3 separate regions of the Homo sapiens genome follow, and regions 1 and 3 are each linked to region 2. Evidence: fine-mapped expression QTL. A gene starts in region 2. Each other region holds a variant in brackets. All regions are shown on one strand. Distances are from middle to middle.

What was found. PIP is the estimated chance that this variant, and not a neighbour inherited with it, causes the effect.
Region 1: its variant is the best candidate, but not a certain one, in a credible set for the expression of EGLN2 in whole blood (TOPMed, PIP 0.80).
Region 3: its variant is the best candidate, but not a certain one, in a credible set for the expression of EGLN2 in whole blood (TOPMed, PIP 0.77).

What each region holds. Positions count from the first base shown.
Region 1 is chr19:40,839,537-40,843,645 of GRCh38, reverse strand. It overlaps CYP2A6 (cytochrome P450 family 2 subfamily A member 6), which reads left to right. Exons shown (of 9, transcript NM_000762.6): 9 at 1-105. Among named protein-coding and RNA genes, the nearest start is that of CYP2A6, 8.9 kb to the left of the region's middle. RefSeq lists an enhancer at 1-22. The variant T/C (reference allele first, on the strand shown) is at 1,553.
Region 2 is chr19:40,796,812-40,800,920 of GRCh38, reverse strand. EGLN2 (egl-9 family hypoxia inducible factor 2) reads right to left here and starts at 1,730. Exons shown (of 6, transcript NM_080732.4): 1 at 1,659-1,730; 2 at 1-582. The coding sequence starts at 348. RAB4B (RAB4B, member RAS oncogene family) reads right to left here. Exons shown (of 8, transcript NM_016154.5): 8 at 3,979-4,109. It overlaps MIA-RAB4B (MIA-RAB4B readthrough (NMD candidate)), which reads right to left. Exons shown (of 10, transcript NR_037775.1): 10 at 3,977-4,109. RAB4B-EGLN2 (RAB4B-EGLN2 readthrough (NMD candidate)) reads right to left here. Exons shown (of 12, transcript NR_037791.1): 8 at 1-582. RefSeq lists silencers at 1,393-1,442, 1,593-1,952.
Region 3 is chr19:40,755,568-40,759,676 of GRCh38, reverse strand. It overlaps SNRPA (small nuclear ribonucleoprotein polypeptide A), which reads right to left. Exons shown (of 6, transcript NM_004596.5): 2 at 2,173-2,345; 3 at 67-246. Among named protein-coding and RNA genes, the nearest start is that of SNRPA, 6.4 kb to the right of the region's middle. The variant C/T (reference allele first, on the strand shown) is at 2,006.

The sequences.
Region 1 (4,109 bases), 43 kb before region 2:
CGGCTCAGTTCACCTTGATAAGGTGCTTCCGAGCTGGGATGAGAGGAAGGAAACCCTTACATTATGCTATGAAGAGTAGTAATAATAGCAGCTCTTATTTCCTGAGCACGTACCCCCGTGTCACCTTTGTTCAAAAACCATTGCACGCTCACCTAATTGCCACAAACCTCTGCGAAGGGCGTTCATGCCCATTTTACACGTGACAAAACTGAGGCTTAGAAAGTTGTCTCTGATGTCTCACAAAACATAAGTGCCCAGAAAATCTTTGAACACAGATCTGTGCCCATAGCCTTCTAGACAGATTCTTAAAAAGCACCTATTCCTCACGTAAAACAGCTTAGTATAGCATCACATGGCCTGAACATCCCTGTCCTGGGGAGTTTTCCAGAGACCTGGCGGGTGGCTGTCCTGCCTTCACTGCACACATGCCCACACTCTCACCTACTCAACATGCTTTGAATACCCGGGTGTAATCTGTGCTTGCTACCAGATAAGGCCACTGTAGCCCATTCAGAGTCAGTCCAGGGACACAACGAGACATGAATGGACATACAGAGTCAGTCCATTAACAATTTTTTGCAGAGCAGAAGTTTTTAATTTTAATGACATTCTGTCAATATATCCCTTAATGAAGAAGTTGAAGGAAAGAATCACTTACAGAGAATGAGAGAACTCTGGATCAGGACATAGCCATATTCATGTGTGTGATCATGTTCAGACATGCATGTGAGCATATGACTGCATATTCTCCTCCGTGTATGCATGAAACATATTCCACTATGGGTTCTGAAGGCTGGGCTCTCCTGATGGATCTGGGGTCTGTTGTAAGACCCAGCTGAGAGTTTCACAATCACTGCCCACTCTCAAAGAAGTTAGTGTGTGTCCCCCTTAGAAGCTCCCTTACGGCTTTCACGAAAATTAACTCCAAGTTTATTGTAGACCTAAATGAATAGTGAGTACAAAACTTCTAGAAGATAATGTAGGAGAAAATCTAGATGACCTTAAGTTTGGTGATGGCTTATTAGATACAACACCAAAAGCACAATCCTTGAAAGAAGCAATTGATAAGTTCTGTGTCATTAAAATTAGAAGCTTCTGCTCTGCAAAAGAATTGTCAAGAGAATGACAATACAAGCTACAGACTAGGAGAACATATTTGCAGGGGACATACCTGATAAGGGACTTACATTCAAAATACACAAAGAACTGTTAAAACTCAATAGAAAACAACCCAATTAAAGAATGGGCAAACGATCTGAGCAGACACCTCACCAAAGAAAATATACACATAGCAAATAAGCATAAGGAAAGATGCTCCATATCATATGTCAGTAGCCATTTCAAATTGAAACAATAATGATGTACCACTACTCACCTATTAGAATGGCTAAAATCCAAAGCTGACAACATCAAATGCTGACAAGGAGGTGGCTCAACAGGAACTGTCATTCATTGATGGTGGGAATGCAAAATGACACAGCTACTTTGAAAGACAATTTGGCGGTTTCTTGCAAAGCTAAACATATTCTTACCATGTGCTACAGCAATCATG[T/C]TCTTCGGTATTAACCCAAATGAGTTGAAAACATATAGCAACACAAAAACCTCTGCACAGATGTTTATAGCAGCTTTATTCATAATTGCCAAATCTTGTAAGCAACCAAGATGTTCTTCAACAAGTGAATGGATAAATGAACTGTAATATGTTCATACAATGAAATACGGCAGGGCTTGATGGCTCATACTGTTAATTATAGCACTATGGGAGGCCGAGGTGGGCAGATCACTTGAGGTCAGGAATTCGAGACCAGCCTGGCCAACATGGTGAAACCCCATCTCTACTAAAAATACAAAAATTAGCCGGGCACGGTGGCATGCGCCTGCAGTTGCAGCCACTTGGGAGGCTGAGGTGGGAGAATTGCCTGAACCCATAAGGCAGAGGTTGCAGCGAGCTGAGATGGAGCCACTGCACTCCAGCCTGGGCGACACAGTGAGATTAGAAGAAGCAATATTGTTAAAATGTTCATACTACTCAAAGCAATCTACAGATTCAATGCAATTCCTATCAAAATACCAATGACATTCTTCACAGAAACAGAAAAAACAATTCTAAAATTTAAACAGAACCACAAAAGATCTAGAGTAGCCAAAGCTATCCTAAGCAAAAAGAACAAAATTGGAGGAATCCCATTATCTGACTTCAAATCGTATTATAGAGCTATAGTAACCAAAACAACAAGGTACTAGCATAACAAGTTACGTAGACCGATGGAACATAATAAAGAGCCCAAAAACAACTTCATACATCTACAGTGAATTCAATTTCAACAAAGGTGCCAAGAACATTCATACACTGGGGAAATAACAGTCACTTCAATAAACAATGCCAAGAAAACTGGACATCTATATGCAGAAGAATGAAACTAGACCCCTATTTTTTGACATATGCAAAAATCAAATCAAAATGGATCATAGACTTAAATCTATGACCTCAAACATGAAACTACTAAAGAAAACACTGAGAAAGCTCTCCAGGACATTGCACTGGGTAAAGATTTCTCGAGTAATACCCAACAAGCACAGGGAACCAAAGCAAAAATGGACAAATGGGATCACATCAAGTTAAAACGCTTCTACACAGCAAAGGAAACAATCAACAAAGTGAAGAGACAACCTACAGAGTGGAAGAAAATAAATATCTGCAAGTTTTCCATCTGACAAAGAATAATTCACAAAAAAATATAAGGAGCTCAAACAACTCAATAGGAAAAAAATCTAATAATCCAATTTAAAATTAATAAAAGATTTGAATAGACATTTCTCAAAAGAAGACATACAAATGGCAAACAGGTATATGAAAAGGTGCTAGTATTAATCCGTTCTCACACTGCTATAAAGAAATACCTGATGGCACGGTGGCTCATGCCTGTAACCCCAGCACTGTGGGAGGCCAAAGCGGGCAGATCGCCTGAGGTCAGGAGTTCCAAACCAGCCTGGCCAACATGGTGAAACCCTGTCTCTACTAAAAATACAAAAAAAGTTAGTCAGGCGTGGTGCTGGGCACCTGTAGTCCCAGCTACCTGGGAGGCTGAGGCATGAGAATTGCTTGAACCTGGGAGGCAGAGGTTGTAGTGAGCCAAGATCACACCACTGCACTCCAGCCTGGGCGACACAGTGAGACTCCATCTCAAAAAAAAGAAAAGAAATACCTGAGACTTGTATTAATCCATTCTCACGCTGCTATAAAGAAATACCTGAGACTGGGTAATTTATAAAGAAAAGAGTTTTAATTGGCTTACAGTTTTGTAGGCTGTACAGGAAGCACAGCAGCTTCTGCTTCTGGAGAGGCCTCAAGAAACTGCCAATCATGGCAGAAAGCAAAGAGGGAGTAAGGCATCTTAGACGGCGGAAGCAGGAGCAAGAGAGAGTGAGCGGGGAGGTGCTGTACGCTTTTGAATAACCAAATCTCATGAGAACTCACTATCACAAGAACAGCACCAAGAGGACAGTATGAAACTATTCATGAGAAATCCAACCACCCTCCAGCAGACCCCACCTCCAACATTGGGAGCTACAATTCAACATGAGATTTGGTGGGGACACAGATCCAAACCATATCAGTGCTCAACATAATTATCATCAGAGAAATGCAAATCAAAACTACAATAAGATGTCATCTCACCCTAGTTCAAATGGCTTTTATCCAAAAGACAGGCAATAACAAATGCTGGCAAGAATGTGGAGAAAAGGGAACTCTCATACATATCTCTTGGTGGAAATCTAAATCAGTACAACCACTATGGAAAACAGTTTGGAGGTTCCCCAAAACACTAAAAATAAAATGACCCTATGATCCAGCAATCCCACCGTATATATCCAAAGAAAAGACATCAGTATATCCAAGATATATCCACACTCCTATGTTTACTGCAGCACTATTCACAGTAGCCAAGATTTGGAAATAACCTGACTGTCCATCAACAGATGAATGGATAAAGAAAATGTGGATAGAATGGATAAAGAAAATTCACAAAAAGGAGTACTATTCAGTCATAAAAATGAATGAGATCCTGCATTTACAACACAGTTGCAACTGGAGGACATTACATTAA
Region 2 (4,109 bases):
GGCCTCAGGCCGTGCGCCCTGGGCTGCCAATCGCTGGCACCCCTTGGTGACCAGCGCTGCAGCGCCTTCACTCTGCAGCGGCCGCAGCTCACCACCATCCTGCCCGCCAAAACCGTCCCGAAGAGGGCTGGCAGTGGTAGAGGTGGCTGTGGCTCTGGGGGTCCCACTCCCTGCCGAGGCCTCACTAGGCACTCCTGGACAGTGGTAGGAGGGGAGCAGGGGACAGGGCAGGTAACTCTCCACTCCCATCCTGGCCCGGCCAGGCTCAGGCTCCAAGGGCTCTGACGAAGACCCTGGTAACTGAGGGAGAGCCTGACTTAGGGGCTGCGGCTGGCACGGGCTGTCCATGGCAGCAGTGTCTTCATCCCCCGGGCATGGAGGGCACCGCCCGGGCCCATGGTGCCACCCTCCTCCGCCTCCTCCTCCGCCTCCACTTGATGCAGCTGGGGGCCACCGGGCCTGGCGTGGGGCAGGGTGAGGCAGGGCAGACAGCAAGAGCTCTTCTCGTGCCCTGGGGGTTGCTTGCTGGTCCCCAAGTCCTCTGCGGTCCCTAAGGGCTTGGGAAGGGACCCTTCAGGGTGGCTAGAGAAAGGAAAAAAAAAAAGGGATGTGAGAGAAACTAGAGACAGGCAGGCAGGGGAAAGCCGGGATGGTATGGGCAGGAGTGGGGAAGACGACCAGGACAGACTTGACTATAGAGGCCCCCCAAAACCTGAGGCCAAGTCGGGGAGAGGACCCTGAGAATCTGGAGGTGCGGGAGTCCGCTGACAGATAAGAGGCAGTGATAGGGAGAGGCTGGAGGCCAGGGGCTGGGTAGATGACCCTAAGACAGAGGACTGTGGTGCAGGTTGTGGGACGCGGTAACCAAAGACAGAAGAAGGAGGGCTGGAGTAGAAAAGGGTGGTGTGGAGGAGTGGGAAAGGAGGGGGTTTGGAAAATAGGAGGGACCTGCCTCGGCGTTCCAGAAAGACAACGAGAAACGTGGGGGTTCCAGGGAGAGTCAGGGTGGGGGCGGGGGGGTCAAAAGACAGAGGAAACTGGGGAGTCCAAAAACAAAGAGAACGAGGGGCCCAGAGACAGAAAAATAGACCGGAGGGAAGCTGGGAGGGAGGACCCGGGGCGGAGCGGGACGGTGGGGTCGACCCGAGCCCGACGGGAGGAAGCCGGCCGGGGGCGGACACACGCCCAGACGGAAGGGAGGTCCCGAGACTGACCGACGGGAGGGGCCCTCGGGGAGAGGGTCCGCGGCGACAGAGGAAAGGACGGAGGAGGGTGCACGCACCCGGAGACAGGACGAGAGATAAAGGTGCCCCCATCCAGGGCACCCCAACGCCCCCAACCCGGGGCAGGCCCTGAGGCCCCTTCTGAGCGCAGTAGGCGACAGGGGCAGGGCCTAAGGGCCGCTCGGACCCCCTCCCCTCCCCCTCCACTCGGCCTCCGCCCGGCGCGCGCTCCCCGCCCCCACCCCAACCCCCACAACGGCCGGCACCCAACGTAACCGGCGCGCGTCCCCTCCCCCGCGCCGCACCCACATCCCCCTTCCCGGGGTCGCCCCGGCAGGCCCCGGCGCGCGCCCCCACACCCCGCCCGGTTCGCGCCGGCGCCCCGGCTCCGGCTTAGTCTCCTCCCGCTCCCTTCTCGCCCCGCGACCTCCTCACCGAGCTTTTTCCTCCGGCCCCGGCGCCGCCGTTTGTGCCAGCCGCCCTGCGCCGCACAGCGCGCCATACCCCGCCCCCACCGCGCGCGACGCCCCGCCCCGCCTCGCCCGGTGGGCACGTGACCGCGCCCCGCGGAGGGGACGGCGCCTGCGCAGGCCCGAGCCGCGCGGGGCGGGGCGGAGCGGGGCGAGGAAGTTCGGGACAACCCCCCTACCAAGGAGAAAGGAAACAGCGGTCCGTGGCCTACACGAGGTTCATTTGCATCCTCCGCCCCGCCCCCTTTGCGCGGGAGGGGGAACGCAGTGTGAGGGGCCGGGTCTGGGAGGGGGCGTTTCTTGCATGTTGGAATCAAGTGGCGTCGGCGGGGCGGGGCACGCAAATGATGTGATTTACATGGACAGGCCTACCCGCCCCCCGCCCAGCGCGGGGCACCGAGTTCGGCAGCGCGGTGCGCGTGACTTCATTTACATGGTCAGCTCCTCCTCCTTCTCGCCGTCCAGGAACGGAGGTGAGAGACGGAGAAATGGCTACGCAGTTAGTTGAGAAATGTATGTAAATTCGCACGTCAGTAATTTACATAAGTATCTTTTATAACGGAGGCAAAAAAGTGCGGGTTGCCCTTGAGAAAAGGGAACGCGGACTAGAAGGGATGTGCAAATGTGTATTTTCAAGACCCGCTCCGGCCTGCCCCCTCGGGACGATTGTGGGAATCAGAATAAAGAACCAGGGAAAGTCTGGGCAACGGAGTGAGACCTTATCTTTACACAAAATTAAAAAATGAAACAAAAAAAAATCCACGGAACGCTACACAGAGAAGACATTTGCATGGCCAGCTGGGAACACTTTAGGAGACTAAGGAGATAAGGTCATTTTGAATGCCCTGCCCGCTCCACCATTGCTCTGGAGAGCTGGGACTCAAGGCTCCCGCCGGGTCGGTGAAGGCCGACGTGGAGATGGGAGGGCGACGAGCAACTGGGAGTGTCCTCGGGGCTGCACCAGTCCCCTGCAGGCCACCTGAGGGCGTAGGGCGGTTCGCGTGAGCACAAGGGCATGCATACTGGTATCCACACATGCGTGAGGATTGCACAAAAGCCCGCAGTCCTCAGGGCACACACAGGGTTCATGGCCACACAAGGGTGTTTCTAGTTTAGTTTTGTTTTTGAGATGGGGTCTTACCCTTTTGCCCAGGCTGAAGTGCTGTGGCATGATCATAGTTCACTGCAGGCCCAACCTCCCAACTAAAGTGATCCTCACACCTCAGCCTCCGGAATAGCTGGGACTTCAGGTGTGTACCACGACACCTGGCTAACTTTTTCTGTTTTTTATTTTTGTAGATAGGGTCTCTCTGTGTTGCCCAGGCTATAGTCTCCAACTCCTGGGCTCAAGTGATCCATCTGCCTTGGCCTCCCGAAGTGCTGGGATTACAGGCATGAGCCACCACGCCTGGCCACACATGGGTGTTTAAAAGGAGCCAAATTCACACCAAAACACACACAGACCTCGGGGTACACATGCACAGGCACACACGCAGTAGTGAGTCACTGCCTCTGACTCTCAGGCATCAGACATGCACACACCGGAGGCCCACCTATAGGTCCAAATTCCCATCCCCTGGCCTTGATGTCCCAAACAATACCAGCCTCACCAATACAATGACCAAGGCCACAGAGCAGTTACGGCTGTCAGCATCACACACAACCAGCACACATTATATCCTATAGACATCATCCCATATGCAGGTACTGGAAACATGTACACATGTCACAAACACAGGGACATCAGCGTGTTTACACACGTGAGCTTAGAACACAGATTGTCACAAACTGTCCACACAGTAACAAATTCCCTCCCTCCGCAACAGGCACCTGAGTCATCATGCTTGGTATACCCCACACCACGTCCAATCAGGAAACAAGGCCCCCAAGGCCAGGCCCAGTGGCTCACACCTGTAATTCCAGCACTTTGGGAGGCCAGCGCGGGCGAATCACCTGAGGTTGGGAGTTCGAGACCAACCTTGACCAACATGGAGAAACTCCATCTCTACTAAAAATACAAAATTAGCCAAGTGTGGTGGCACATGCCTGTAATCCCAGCTACTCGGGAGGCTGAGGCAGGAGAATAGCTTGAACCCGGGAGGTGGAGGTTGTGGTGAGCCAAGATCACGCCACTGCACTCCAGCCTGGGCAACAAGAAGGAAACTCCATCTCAACAACAACAACAAAAAAACAGAAACAAGGCCCCCAAACACCATGACACATGATTCTTCCATCAGGGACCTCTTCCATCTCCCTGCCATCTCACAATAATGGAGGCCAAGACACAGGTGTAAACAATGCTTTATGGGGGTAGGGTGGGTGCTGGACAGGCCTCCAGGTAATAAATAACAGGTACTAGCAACAGCAGGGCCAGATGGGGAGTTGGGGACAAATGACCCTGGTCTCAGGCTTTGGG
Region 3 (4,109 bases), 41 kb after region 2:
AAAGCCAGTCCATGTGGCTGAGGAAGGTCTGGCAGTGGGAGGGTTGGTCTCCGGGACCTGGCTTACCGGGACAGGCCCCTGGACAGCCCCCACCACGGGGGTGGCTCCCCCGCCTTGCACAGCCTTCTTGGTGGCCGGGGTCTCCTGGCTCTTGGGCTTCCTCTTCTCCCGCTTGCGGTCCCGCTCCACGAAGGTGCCTTTCATCTTGGCAATGATATCTGAGTCGGTCTTGGCATACTGGATACGCTACCAAACAGAGAGCAGAACGGGTTAAGAGCGTGGATTCAGAGCCCAATTGCCAAGATTCAAAATTGGACCTTTATCAGGGGCCAGGTGCTGCGGCTCATGCCTGTAATCCCAGCCCTTTGGGAGGCTAAAGCGAGCAGATCACTTGAGGCCAGGAGGTGGAGACCAGCTTGGCCAACATGGCAAAACCCCATTTCTTTGTTTCTTTTCTTTTTTTTTTTTTTTTGAGACATTGTCTTGCTCTGTCACCCAGGCTAGAGTGCAGTGATGAGATCTCAGCTGACTGCAACCTCTGCCTCCCGGGTTCAAGCAATTCTGCCTCAGCCTCCCTACTAGCTGGGATTACAGGCGCCCACCACCACGCCTGGCTAATTTTTGTGCTTTTAGTAGAGACAGGGTTTCACCATGTTGGCCAGGCTGGTCTCGAACTCCTGACCTCAGGTGATCCACCCACCTCGGCCTCCGAAAGTGCTGGGATTACAGGCATGAGCCACTGCGCCTGGCCAGGAAACCCCATTTCTACCAAAAATACAAAAATTAGCTGGGCATGGTGGTGCGCACCTGTAGTCCCAGCTACTCAAGAGGCTGAGGCAGAAGAATCGCTTGAACCCAGGAGGCGAAGGTTGCAGTCAGCTGAGATGGCACCACTGCACTCCAGCCCAGGCAACAGAGCAAAAAACAAAAAACAAAAAACAAACAAACAAAAAAAAATTCAGACCTTATCAGGAGCTTACTGAGAAACACAGAAATATCTTGGCCTTAACTTCCTTGTCTGAAAAATGGGGATTATGATACTTCCCACTTCAAAGGACTGTTGTGAGGACTAAATGAGTTAAAGTGCTTGGAACAGTACCTGACACACAGTAAGCAAGTGTTCAGTAGAAAGGCTGTTGGTATTTTTAAGGGAAGCTGGAACAGCAATAAACATCAGGCCAAAGGACCGAGGAGACAATGCTAGGAGAGGAGTGCAGTGCAGGGGGATTTCCTGTCACACAAGAATACTTCAGTCTTCCAGGTTCAATCTCACTCACTTAGCTGTTTAAGGAGAACCTGCCAGATGCCAGGCGCCATTCAAGGCTCTGGGAATAAAGCAATGAACAAAATAGACAAAAACCCCTCTTTCATGGTGCTTATTCAGTAGGGGAAGGTATGTTAAAGATTCTTAGTGTGGCACAGTAGCTCACGCCTGTAATCCTAGCACTTTGGGAGGCTGAGGCAGGCAGATCACTTGAGCTCAGGAGTTTGAGACCAGCCTGGGCAACATGGCGAAACCCCGTCTCTACTAAAAATAAAAAAATCAGCCAGGTATGGTGGCACGTGCCTGTAATCCCAGCTACTCAGGAGGCTGAGGCAGGAGAATCACTTGAACCCGGGAGGTGGAGGTTGCAGTGAGCCAAGATTGCACCACTGCACTCCAGCCTGGGCAACAGAGGAAGATTCTGTCTCAAAATAATTTATTTATTTATTTATTTATTTATTTATTTTTTCTGAGACAGAGTCTCACTCTGTTGCCTAGGCTGGAGTGCAGTGGCAGGATCTCGGCTCACTGCAATCTCTGCCTCCCGGGTTCAAGCAATTCTCCTTCCTCAGCCACAGGAGTAGCTGGGACTACAGGTGCATGCTGCCACACCGAGCTAATTTTTGTATTTTAGTAGAGACAGGGTTTCACGGTGTTGCCCAGGCTGGCTGCAAACTCCTGAGCTCAGGTAATCCACCTGCCTCGGCCTCCCAAAGTGCCAGGATTACAGACGTGAGCCAC[C/T]GCCCTCGGCCAAAGAAAAGATTTTTAAATGAGGCAAGGTGCAGTGGGAGCCTGGTCCAGCCTCACCTTGGCAAATGAACCGTAATATCCCCTCCTCTAATCCAGGCCCGCCCAGTCTCCTATAACATTTTACACACCCACACAGCCTCCGTACCCGCAATGCTCACCATAGGTTTGTCATAGAAAGGGAAACCCTGCATGGAGCGCAGGGCGTTGGTGGCGCTGCTGACCTCCTTGAAGATGACAAAGGCCTGGCCCCTCATCTTCAGGCTCCGTGATACCAGGATATCCAGGATCTGGCCAAACTGGGAGAAGATGGCGTACAGGGACTTTTTTAGCTCTGCAGTGGGGGAAAAAAAGACCTTTGAGCTCCCCTTTTTAGAAGAAGCGCAGCCCAAATAGAAGACCATCAGCCAATTGATGGGGTACCCAGAATGCCTCGGGTCCATAATCTCTCAAGACCTAACAATCACAGAAGCAGCCAGGAACCACTCAAGTGGCCAAGTACACTCTTCTACTCTTCTGTAAGATGTGCTTACAGAGAGCTGCTATATAATGAACATGTGCACATACATGCAAAGTGCTCAGGACAGCATCCGGCACGTAGTAAACACTCGATAAATGAGTGATTCTTTTCACTGCCACCAGCACCCTGACATGGGCCTGCATGACGTGGCCCTGGCAGATTTCCCCCACCTCATCCCTGCCCACATTCCACCGCCCTCCTGAGTTCCCAACCACACTGGCCCCCAGGTCTGACACACCAATTTTGCCCCAGGGCCTTTGAACTGGCTGCTCTCTTTACCTGGAACATCCCTCCCCTGAGGTTTACATGGTGGCCTCCTTCTAGTCACCCAGTCTCAGAGGAAATGTTGCCACCTCTGACCACGACGTCTAAATTTCTTCCCATGTCATTCTTACTCTACTTCCTTTTCTTTCATGACTATTTCCCACCTCCTGTCATGGTACGTTAACTTGTCTATCTTGCCTGAGGAGCTATAAGCCTGTCCCATTTGTTTACTGCAGTATGCCAAGCCTAGCACAGACTCCACCACAATTTTTTTTTTTTTTTTTTGGTGACAAGGTCTCACTTTGTCACCCAGGCTGGAGTGCAGTGGCATGATCATGGCTCACCGTAGCCTCAACCTCCCGGACTCAAGCGGTCCTCCCACTTCAGCCTATGGAGTAGCTGGGACCACAGGTGTATGCCACCATGCCCAGCTAATTTCTGGATTTTGTGCAGAGACAGGGTCTTGCTATGTTGCCCAGGCTGGTCTTGAACTCCTGAGCTTCAGCAATTAGCCCACCTTGGCCTCCGAAAGTGCTGGGATTACAGGAGTGTGCCACCACACCTGGCTGCAAACATTTGACTAGATACCATCAAGTGCCTTTTTTTTTTTTTAAAGACAGAATCTCCTTCTACTGCTCAGGGTGGAGTTCAGTGGCATGATGGTAGCTTACTACAGGCCTGACCTCCCAGGCTCAAGCAATCTTCCCACCACAGCCTCCCAAGGAGCTGGGACCATAGGCACGCAGCACGACGCACGGCTAATTTTTTATTTTTTGTAGACACAGTCTCCTATGTTGGCCAGGTTGGTCTTGAACTCCTGGGCTCCAGTGATCCTCCTGCCTTGGCTTCCCCAAAGTGCTGGGATTACAGGCATGAGTCATCGCACCCCCATCAAATGCTTTATGGAGGTAACTTCACTTCCTCACAACAAACCCATTAGGTGGCAACTATGACTGTCCCAATTTTACTGGAAACAGGTTCTCAGAGGATTCCTCACTGGCCCAGGGCATCAATCTGGAGGGCATAAGGAAGCGTATGGCAGAGCCCAGTCCACGTATTCCATCTGAACCCGGTACCACCACATCTCACCAGCAAAGGGCATCACTTGACAGCAAGTGAGATTCAAGCTCAACAAGGATGGACTCCCTCTCACCACCCAGGTCTGCAAAGGGCACCAATGTCTTATGCAAAGAAGATGGCTGAGATGGCCAAGCATGGTGGCTCACACCTGTAATCCCAGCACTCTGGGAGGCCGAGGTGGGCAGATCCTTTGCACTCAAGAGTTCAAGACCAGTCTGGGCAATAGGGTGAAAC